Regions from separate parts of the Homo sapiens genome. Here region 2 is linked to region 1. The links come from fine-mapping of genetic effects on gene expression. A gene starts in region 1. The other region holds a variant in brackets. All regions are shown on one strand. Distances are between the middles of the regions.

The links. PIP is the estimated chance that this variant, and not a neighbour inherited with it, causes the effect.
Region 2: its variant is the best candidate, but not a certain one, in a credible set for the expression of RPL14 in whole blood (TOPMed, PIP 0.57).

Annotation. Positions count from the first base shown.
Region 1 is chr3:40,454,601-40,460,109 of GRCh38, forward strand. RPL14 (ribosomal protein L14) reads left to right here and starts at 2,739. Exons shown (of 6, transcript NM_001034996.3): 1 at 2,739-2,874; 2 at 3,290-3,391; 3 at 4,042-4,136. The coding sequence starts at 2,872. RefSeq lists an enhancer at 2,538-2,832 and silencers at 2,975-3,024, 4,238-4,532.
Region 2 is chr3:40,364,431-40,369,698 of GRCh38, forward strand. No RefSeq gene overlaps it. Among named protein-coding and RNA genes, the nearest start is that of ENTPD3, 20 kb to the right of the region's middle. The variant CAA/C (reference allele first, on the strand shown) is at 3,157.

The DNA of each region.
Region 1 (5,509 bases):
GCAAGACAACAAGACCTAAAGACTGATTCATTCACTACCTATTTATTGAGCCCCTTACCAGACTAAGGTGAGAAAATAAAACAGAAAAGACAGCAAAGGTCCTGCCCTCATGGAACTTATTCTAACTGGAACGAAACAACACCTACGTGGGCAGCAAAACAAGTCAAACAATTGCAATTGTGATAACTCTGAGGGAAACAAGGTGAGCTAGAAAAAGAAGGGTGGGGACTTAACCTTTTTTTATGTGGTAGCCTGGTTAACTCTCAGAAAAATATCTAGGAAAAAATACAAGAGATAAGTTGGCACTGCTACACGATGAGTATTAACAATGGGTAGACCATTCCTGGCAAGAGAGACACCATGTATAAAGGTCATGGAGGAGGAGAGAGCTTGGCCCATTCAAGACCAGTGTGGCTTCAACACAATGAAGGAGGGATGGCATAAGGTGTATCTGGGTATTAAAGCATATGATACAAGGCCAGAGTAAGAAGTTGAGATTTTATTCCAAATATTATGAAAAGCAATCGAACTGTTAAAAACAGGAAATAATGTGATCTGATTTACTTACTTAAAAGATCCCTCTAACTGCTGAGCAGAGAACAGATTAAAGACAGAATTTAGGAGGCTGCTAGAGCAGTCTCAGGGAAGATATGCTGGCATAGAGCTTAGAGGAAAGGCTTGAAATACATCTGGGAACTGTCATGGCAAAGATCATCACCTTAATCAAGTGATAAAAGGTAACACCTCTCTGCACTGGCCTGGGTAAAAATCTAAAGAATAAAATACCACCACAATATTGGGAACCCATGTGTGGTGGTGTATTCCTGTAGTCCCAACTATTCTGGAGGCTGAAGCAGAACTGCTTGAGCCCATGAGTTCAAGGCTGTAGCAGGCTACAATCAGACCTGTGAATAGCTACTGCACTCCAGCCTGGGCAACACAGCCAGACCCCATCTCTTCGAAAAAATGTATATGTGTGTGGCCAAGCACAGTGGCTCACGTTTGTAATCCTAGCACTTCTGGGAGGCTGAGGCAAGTGAATCACAAGGTCAGGAGTTCAAGACTAGCCTGGCCAAAATGGTGAAACCCTGTCTCTACTTAAAACACAAAAATTAGCCGGGCGTGGTGGCAGGCACCTGTAATCCCAGGTACTTGGGAGGATGAGGCAGAGAACTGCTTGAACCCGGGAGGCAGAGAACTGCTTGAACCTGGGAGGCAGAGGTGGCAGTGAGCCGAGATCGCACCACTGCACTCCAGCCTGGGTGACAGAGGGAGAGTCCATCTCAAAAAAAGAAAGAAAAAAAAAAGTGTTTGTGTGTGCGTATATATATAGAGAGAGAGAGAGTGAAGAGAGAGAGAATGTATTCTGATGTGATGCACCAAGGACATAGCATTTCTACCAAAAATTCACTATCTGAATCCAATGAGGAAAACTCCAACAAACCCATGTTACAAATTTAACAGTTAAATCTAAAACTATCAGTTAAAGACTAGAGACCTGATAAATAATTGCAATTTGTAATCCTCCATTAGATCAAGAGCCTGGAAAAACAATTTTTTTTCCCATTTGCTCCAAGGAACATAGGAGCAACAACTTATAAATTTGAATAAGGACTGAAGGTTAGATAATAGTACTATTGCAATATCAATTTCCTGATTTTGATAAGTGTACTGATGACATAAGAGAATCTCTCTGTTGTTAGGAAATACACATTTTAAGAACGTATAGATAGGCTGGGCATGGTGGCTCACGCCGGTAATCCCAACACTTTGGAAGGCCGAGACGAGAGGATCGTCTTCACTCAGAAGTTAGAGGCTGCAGGGAACCATGATCGCGCCACTGCACTCCAGCCTGAGCGACTGAGGGAGACCCTGTCTCTATAAAAGAATGTAACGCCAGGCACGGCGGCTCACGCCTGTAATCCCAGCACTTTAGGAAGCTGAGGGAGGCAGATCACGAGGTCAGGAGTTCGAGACCAGCCTGGCCAACATAGTGAAACCCTGTCTCTACTAAAAATGCAAAAAAATTAGCCGGCCATGGTGGCGCGCGCCTGTAGTCCCGGCTACTTGGGAGGCTGAGGCTGGAGAATCACTTGAACCCGGGAGGCGGAGGTTGCGGTGAGCCAAGCCCCCGCCACTGCACTCCAACCTGGGCAACAGACCGAGACTCCGTCTTTAAAAAAAAAAAAATGTAGCGATAGAAGGACATCATGTCGGCAATTTCCTTTCAAATGATATAGCACATGCAAAACGTTAACATTTGTGGAATCTAGAAGGGTTTGTGGGAATTATTTGTACTAGTTTAGCAATATTTCTGTAACTGTGAATTACTTGAAAATGAAAGGTTAACAAAGTTACTGAGATTAGGAGAGAACGTGAGGAGCGAACAGACCTAGCCATGAATAACCAACAAATAAAACTCGAGGAAATAAAAAGGAACTCAAATGGCATGCGACCAACGGAAGACATAGCTTCTGTACTCTTAACCCTAAATTACTAAGCGATGACCCTCCTGCAGCTTTCTAATCCAAATCACCAAAAACAATCTCGCCGCCCAACTTTGCCAAAAAGCAACTTAACGCCAGCCGACTCCGCCATGTTTTCCCAGTGAGCTTGCGAGCGCGTGCGTACGCACGCACGCACGCACGCACCAACCAATCGGTGCTCACGTCGGTGACTCGTTACCGCAGGGGCGGTGCGTTCTTCTACACATGCGCAGGGTTGGGCGGGTCTTCTTCCTTCTCGCCTAACGCCGCCAACATGGTGAGTCTTACTGTTGCGGGCTCCGGGGCCGTCGACCATGCCGCTCGACCTCCACCTCCGCTGGGAAGCTGAGGCGCCAAACGGCTCCCAGAGGGTCCCGGGAAGCGCATGGTGAGGGTCCCCGGGCCGGCTGTGCAGCGGAATCGGGCCCTTCCCGGACTCGCGCCCTTCCCGGACTCGCCGCTGGCGAGCGCGTGGAGGGCCCGGCAGGCCTGGCGCGCCTTGGGCCACGCGTGCGCGCCTCCGCCGCTGGAGCTGGATGGCTGATGCGGCTCGTGGTCCGAGAGCCTTGTCCTGCCGTGTGGGCCTTGCGGACCTGGGAGCTGGCGGGCGTTGGGAACCGGGCTTAAGCTACTGAGGCGTTTGCTGATTTCGTCCATCCAGGTTGGCGCCTGGCTCTCGGGCGTTTGTTCCCTGCAGCATTCTTTTTCGCTGAATTTAACCATGTTGTCTTTAGCTGCAGAAGGTGACATATGTAGCGAGTATTTCTAAGTAAGTTTCACTGTCCTTTCTCCTCCAATTTTAGGTGTTCAGGCGCTTCGTGGAGGTTGGCCGGGTGGCCTATGTCTCCTTTGGACCTCATGCCGGAAAATTGGTCGCGATTGTAGATGTTATTGATCAGAACAGGGTAAGTGTCACAACTTTTTACTAAACATGGCAGTGGACATGTGCCCTGCAGATGGCAATAATGAATTGTCTCGATGGCTGTGTAAGATGAGGATGCTATGGGTAGTCGCTTTATTTTACCATTGAGGAAACAGGTAATGGTACGGGTTTTAAGCACAGCCTGAAGTTAGCTATTAGTATTGAATTTCAGTATTAGCCACTTAAGCTAGAGCCAGTTATAGGCTGAAACGTTGGTTAGTTTTAAATGAGTTACTATACGTAAAGTGAGTTTAGAACAGATCCAGCACGTAGAAAGCACTTTTGTATTTACTGCTGTGTATTTGAAACAAGCAAACTAAGGAGTTGACCACTGACTATAAATCAGCAGGGATCAGAGTCCTAAAGTTGCCTGTAAATTACATGTGGTTGGTTTCTATGGGGTACTATATAGTTTAAGAAGGAGCATTTAATGATGTGGAGAAATGTTTGTGTTGAGCAAAAGACATACATATATATAACCCAGATAGGACAATCCTTGTCTTTTCTGAGCAATTTATTAAAATAGTAGTGTGGGTTTGATGGCCCTGAACGGATAAGTAATGTTACAGAACCATCTGACCATTTTAATTGCTGTTAGATTTTGCACTGAAGTTCTTGATGTTTGTGTTCTAGGCTTTGGTCGATGGACCTTGCACTCAAGTGAGGAGACAGGCCATGCCTTTCAAGTGCATGCAGCTCACTGATTTCATCCTCAAGTTTCCGCACAGGTAACTGTCCACTAATCACTCCTCCCTCCCATCCCCAGATTTGTTTATGCTAGTAAAAGTTTGTTTTGGAGTAAACAATACGGAAGATTCAGAGCCATCCTGAAGAGGGATTTGCATCATAGAAGTAGACAGGGATTATTTACTTTTAAAATGTCTTGCCTGCGCGTGATAGCTCATGCCTGTAATCCCAGTACTTTGGGAGGCCACGGTGGGAGGGTCTCTTGAGCCCAAGTTTCAAGACCAGCATGGGCAACATGGCGAAAACCCCCATCTCTACAAAAAATAAAAAAAAAATTCGTTGGGCATGGTGGCACGCGCCTGTAATCCCAGGTAGGGGGGCCTTGGGGGTGCTGAGTTGGGAGGATCGTTTTAGCGAGGTCGAGGCTGCAGAGAGCCGTGATCATGCCACTGCACTCCAGCCTGGATGACAGAGTGAGACCCTGTCTCAAAAATAAATAAATAAAATAAATGCCTTGAGGTCACTTTTCTATCCTGGTAGTTTAGGGCTTTGCCTTTGTTTAGATTTGCCATCTTCTTTTCTTCTGGTTTCTGCCAAATTTTTAGCTTAAAGTAAACAACAATACTAAGTCTTGTGTTTATTGCTACTAGCTATCATTAGATAAGCTCTCAGTGTGTGTCAGTTACACAGTATTTAATATAAGAGGTTTTATCCCTAGCTTACATTTAAGTGAGGCAGTGAATAGCAGTTCTTTTTTGACATGAAAATTAAAACACTTTAGTGTGTTGCTATACAGTTAATTCAACCCACAATGATGGTTGCAGTGGAACATGTAATTTTGCATGCTTTAAAAAATAGTCAAAAACTTGCTGTATGTTGGCCGGGCGCGGTGGCTCACGCCTATAATCCCAGCACTTTGGAAGGCCGAGGCGGGTGGATCACGAGGTCAGGAGATGGAGACCGTCCTGGCTAACACGGTGAAACCCCGTCTCTACTAAAAATACAAAAAAAAAATATTCCGGGCATGGTGGCGGACACCTGTAGTCCCAGCTACTTCAGAGGCTGAGGCAGGAGAATGGCGTGAGCCCGGGAGGCGGAGCTTGCAGTGAGCCGAGATCGCAACACTGCACTCCAGCCTGGGTGACAGAGCGAGACTCCGTTTCAAAAAAAAAAAAAAAAAAAAAACTTACTGTATGCTGAGCACTACAGGCACTGTGGGACGTGTATTAACACATAATGGATTTTGAAGTACTGGTAGTTGAAAACATGCCACTTGAACAACCTCGAGTGAACATAGCCATGCTGCTACTACTGTGACATACCAATTAGGGGTGAAGCTTGAGGATACTTGTCAAAGTTCAAAGCAGTAGAAAATACTTGGTAACTTAGATTTTTCACTAGGTACTCTTGTAAT
Region 2 (5,268 bases), 90 kb before region 1:
TGCTAATTTCATTTCCATTACTTGTAAGTTACCTTTTCTCTTTCTCTTTCTCTTCCTCACTGCCCTCTCCCTGTCTCTAATTTTCTCTCTCTCTCTTCTCTCCATCATCACTGTTTTAAAAATTCACAATGGCATGTTTTTATTTAGCACTTTTAATCTGGACATTTCTTTTCTCCACTTCTGGAAATTTTCATTCTACTTCTTTGATAATTTCTTCCCTCCATTTTCTCTGCTCTATTTCTGGAATTTCTTAAAACTGCCAGTTTTCTTTTATTTCCATTATTCATGGTCTGATTTATTTTTGGTATTGAGTTCATGCTAATATCTGCAGCTGTCAGTGTAATTACCATTGTCATCTTAGTGTGATGGTTCTAGAGCTTGAAATTTCTATATTTAAAAACAACATTATACTTCACAATTAAAACTAAAAACTTAAGTTAGAAGTGTAGGCTAGCGGCCTACATATCACATCTTTTGACTTTGCTCTGGAGTAATTTTTAAATTACACTATTCAAAGGAATACATTTTGCTCTGTTCTCTTCTCCGTAAAGAGTAATAGCAGAGGAATTTAAAAATGAAAGAACACAAGAAAGGCCTTGAGGATGAAATGTGTTTCATCCATCTCTGAATTTTATCTTCTTTTCATCAGCTGGGCTATAGGATGGACCTAAAAAATTGGAGTTCTCTCTTATCAACATGAAACATAGCTAGCAGTCCTGACTGTATCTAAACCCATCTGAGCTATTTTAAGACCTTTGTAGATCTTCAACATTCTGGTTTTTGAAAGCCCCACTCAGAGTCTTATTAAAACTTTTTTTTTTTTTTTTTGAGACAGAGTCTCGCTCTGTCACCCAGGCTGGAGTGCAGTCGCACAATCTCGGCTCACTGCAAGCTCTGCCTCCTGGGTTCACGCCATTCTCCTGCCTCAGCCTCCCCAGTAGCTGGGACTACAGGAGCCCGCCACCATGCCTGGCTAATTTTTTTGTATTTTTAGTAGAGACAGGGTTTCACTGCGTTAGCCAGGATGGTCTCGATCTCCTGACCTTGTGATCCACCCGCCTCGGCCTCCCAAAGTGCTGAGATTATTAAAACTTTTAAAATGCACTCATATCACAAATAATATTGTCCCAGGCACTGTTCTAAGAACTTGGCATACATTAGTGAACAATACTAAGACCCTTACCCTTGTAAAGCCTTTATTCTATATAATTGATATCCAGCTAAGGAAGAGTCAGGTTGAATTGAGTTGAGTATAATTAAATGGTTGGCATGTTGTGTTAGGTAGACACTTATGTTAATACGTCAGGTTAGTCTAGACTGTACTGAGGGAACAAACAGTCCCCCAAATCCCAGTAGCTTAACATAACACAAGTTTATTTCTGGCTCACGACATGTTCATTATAGTTTAGAAGGGCTCTGCTCCATAGACGTAGTCACTGGGAACCCAGACTTCAGAAGGCATCACTGTCTTGTAGCTGCACCAATGAGTACATACGACCTCTTCAGTCTCCACAACTGGGAAGGAGTAAGATGGAGAGTCATGCATTGACTTTTAAATGTTTCATGCTAAAAGTGACAAAGGCCACTTCCAGTCACACCCAATGGCCAGAACCAGCCACAGGCCCTGCCTAACGGCAAAGAGACGGGAAAATGTGGGAAAGCCCAGGAATATTCATAGGTAGTAAATATCTCCACAATAAAGCTTATTTTAATACTTGTTTATTTCATTCTGAAGTTTTCCTTTGACACTTTAAAGTCAATAAATGTTTTCAAGTCTCAGATGTTTGCAGGAAGAACTCATAGGCCCTAAGCATTGTTCCTACAATTATAATAGTTTGCATTATATTTACTGAAAGGTTATTACATGCAGGCATTGTTTTAGGTGCTTTATATGAGTATGTAAATGTGTTGCTCATTTACTCCTCACAACAATGCTATGACGTAGGTACTGTTCCTACCCTCATTCCACAGCTGAGGAAATAGAGGCACAGAAAGGGTAAGTCACCTGCCCAAGTCACACAACTAGTGAATGACTATGCCTGAACTTGTGCCACCTCATCACACTGCCTTTCAGATGTGAAGGATAAACAGCCTGTGGAACATGCAGCATTTATATTTTCTGCCTGTACCAACACTTATGGTCACAATAATGAAAGAGGAAAGAAAAGAAAGAGGAAAAGCAAAACTTCTGTCCAGTTTGAGACCAGTAGTGAGCAGTTCTCATTTTCCTTTGGGTGTGTTTCTAGGCAGAAGAGTACATAAAGAGACAGGAGAAATAGGAGATAACCTTCTTCCTTGAAAAGCTTGAGATTACAATACCCACTACAGCCTGCATGCTGGAAAAAATGGGATAAAGCAGCTACCTAACCAGTGCTATCCTAATGGAATTTATTTTGCCTTCAAATGAGCATCTAATGTGATTAAAGAATGGAAGTTATTAAACAAACAAGGTTTACCAAGGCATTTCTTTCCAATTTTTGTGTGTGAAACAAATGTAAATGTAGCCAACTGGCTCAAGATGTTGCCTTACCCGAAACCTTGCAATTAGAGATTGTAGAACATTCATGACTCAGCACATCTATTCACAGTGCAGGCTGTTTATTTCTGGTTTTGTATTCAATGTGTCACCAAAAAGTGCAAGCAAGACTCAGCAGCATGCAAGCCTGCACTAACATGCACATGCTCAGTAAACTTAGACTAAGAATCTACACTAGACCAAGAGCACATACTGTGCAATCCCATTCATACAGTGTTCAATAACGGGCACCAACCAAGAATTTCATATCCTGCCAAACTGAACTTTATAAGCAGATGAGAAATAAAAAATTTTCCAGACAAATAAATGCTAAGGTAAGGTAAGGCAAGTGATTGTTACCACTATACCAGCCCAAGAGATCCTTAAGGGAGTTCTAAACGTGGAAACGAAAGAATAACACCTGCTACCATGAGAACACACATAAGTATATAGCCTGCAGACCCTAGAAAGCAACCACACAATAAAAACTACAAAGTAACCAGCTAACAACTTCACAATAGGATCAAACCCATATATTGATATTAACCTTGAAATATGTAACTGGCATAATTGCTCCTACTTGAAAGGCACACAATGGCAAGTTGGATAAAAACAAACAAGACCTATCCATCTGCTATCTT[CAA/C]GAGACTCATCTCACACATAATGACACCCATAGGCTCAAAGTAAAAGGTTGGAGAAAAATCTACCATGTAAACAGAAAACAAAAAAGAGTGGGGGTTGCTATTCTTATGTCAGATAAAGCAGACTTTAAACCAACAACAGTAAAAAAAAAAAAAAAAAGGACAAAAGGGCATTACATAACGGTAAAAGGTTCAATTCAACAAGAAGACTTAACTAAATATATATGCACCCACATTAGAGTAGCTAGATTCATGAAACAAGTGTTTCTAGATCTATGAAAAGACTTAGGCACATAATAATAGTGACTTCATAATAATAGTGACTTCAGCACTTCACTGACAGCATTAGACAGATCATCAAGGGAGAAAACTAACAAAGAAATTCTGGACTTAATTTCAACACTTGACTTATTGGACCTAATGGATATCTACAGAATACCCCACCCATCAACCACAGAATATACATTCTTTTCATCTGCACATGGAGCATACCGTAAGATTGACCACACACTTGGACATAAAGCAAGTTTTAATAAATTCAAAAAAATCAAAATCATACCAACCATACTGGACCACAGTGAAATAAAAACAGAAATCAATACCAAGAAGATTTCTCAAAACCACATAATTACATGGAAATTAAACAATCTGCTCCCAAATGACTTTTGGGTAAACAAAATCAAGGCAGAAATTTTAAAAAATCCTTGAAATAAATGAAAACAGAGACACAACATATCAAAATCTCTGGGACGCAGGAAAAGCAGTGTTAAGAGGAAAGCCTGTAGCACTAAATGCCTACCTCAAAAAGTTAGAAAGATCCCAAATTAACAATCTAATATCACACCTAGAGGAACTAGAAAAATAAGAACAAATTAACCCGAAAGCTAGGAGAAGAAAAGAAATAACAAAAATCAGAGCTGAACTGAACAAAGTTGAGACCCAAAAAATTATACTAAGAATCAACAAAACCAAGAGTTGTTTTTTTGTAAGGATAAACAAGATTGATAGACACTAGCTACATAAAAAAGGAAAGGCTCAAATAAGCACAATCAGAAACAGCAAAGGTAACATTACAATTGATTCCCCAGAAACATACAAGATCCTCACAAACTATTATGAACATCTCTACACAAAGAAACTAGGAAGTCTAGAGGACATGGATGAATTCCTGGAAACATACAATCTCCCAAGATTGAATCAGGAAGAAACTGAAACACTGAAAAGACCAATATTGAGTTCTGAAACCAAATCAGTAATTTAAAACAAACCTATCAAACAAAATACCCCCAGACCGAATGGATTCACAGCCAAATTCTAACAGACATACAAAGAAGAGCTGGTACCAATACAACTGAAATTATTTCAAAAAATTGAGAAGGAGGAACTCCTCCCTAACCCATACTATGAAGCCAGCATCATCCTGACATCAAAACTGGGCAAAGACACAAAAACAAAAACAAAAAAACTACAGATCAATATCCCTGATGAACATAGACACAAAAATCCACAACAAAACACTAGCAAACCAAATTCAACAGCATATCAAAAAGTTAGTTAATTCACTATGAACAAGTAAGCTTCACTCCTAGGATACAAGTTTGGCTCCACACATGCAAATCAACAGATGTGACATAAACAGAATTAAAAACAAAAGGCATATATGTTAGTTCCGTTTCACACTGCTGTACAGAACTACCTGAGACTGGGTAATTTATAAAGAAAAAAGGTTTAATTGACTCAGTTCTGCATGGCTAGGGAGACCTCAGGAAACTTACAATCATGGCAGAAGGCTAAGGGGAAGCAAGGCACATCTTTCCAAGGTGAAGCGGCAGACACAGAGTAAGCAAGAGAAGAAGTGCCACACTTTAACACCATCATATCTTGTGAGAACTCACTCACTATCATGAGAACAGCATGAGGGAAACCGGCCCCCATAATCCAATCACCTCCCACCAGGCCCCTCCTCGTGCATGTAGGGATTAAAATTCGAGATGATTTGAGTGGGGACACAGAGCCAAACCATATCACCATATGATCATCTCAATAGACACAGAAAAAGCTTTTGATAAAATCAAGTATCCCTTCATGATAAAAACTAGGCATTGAATGAAC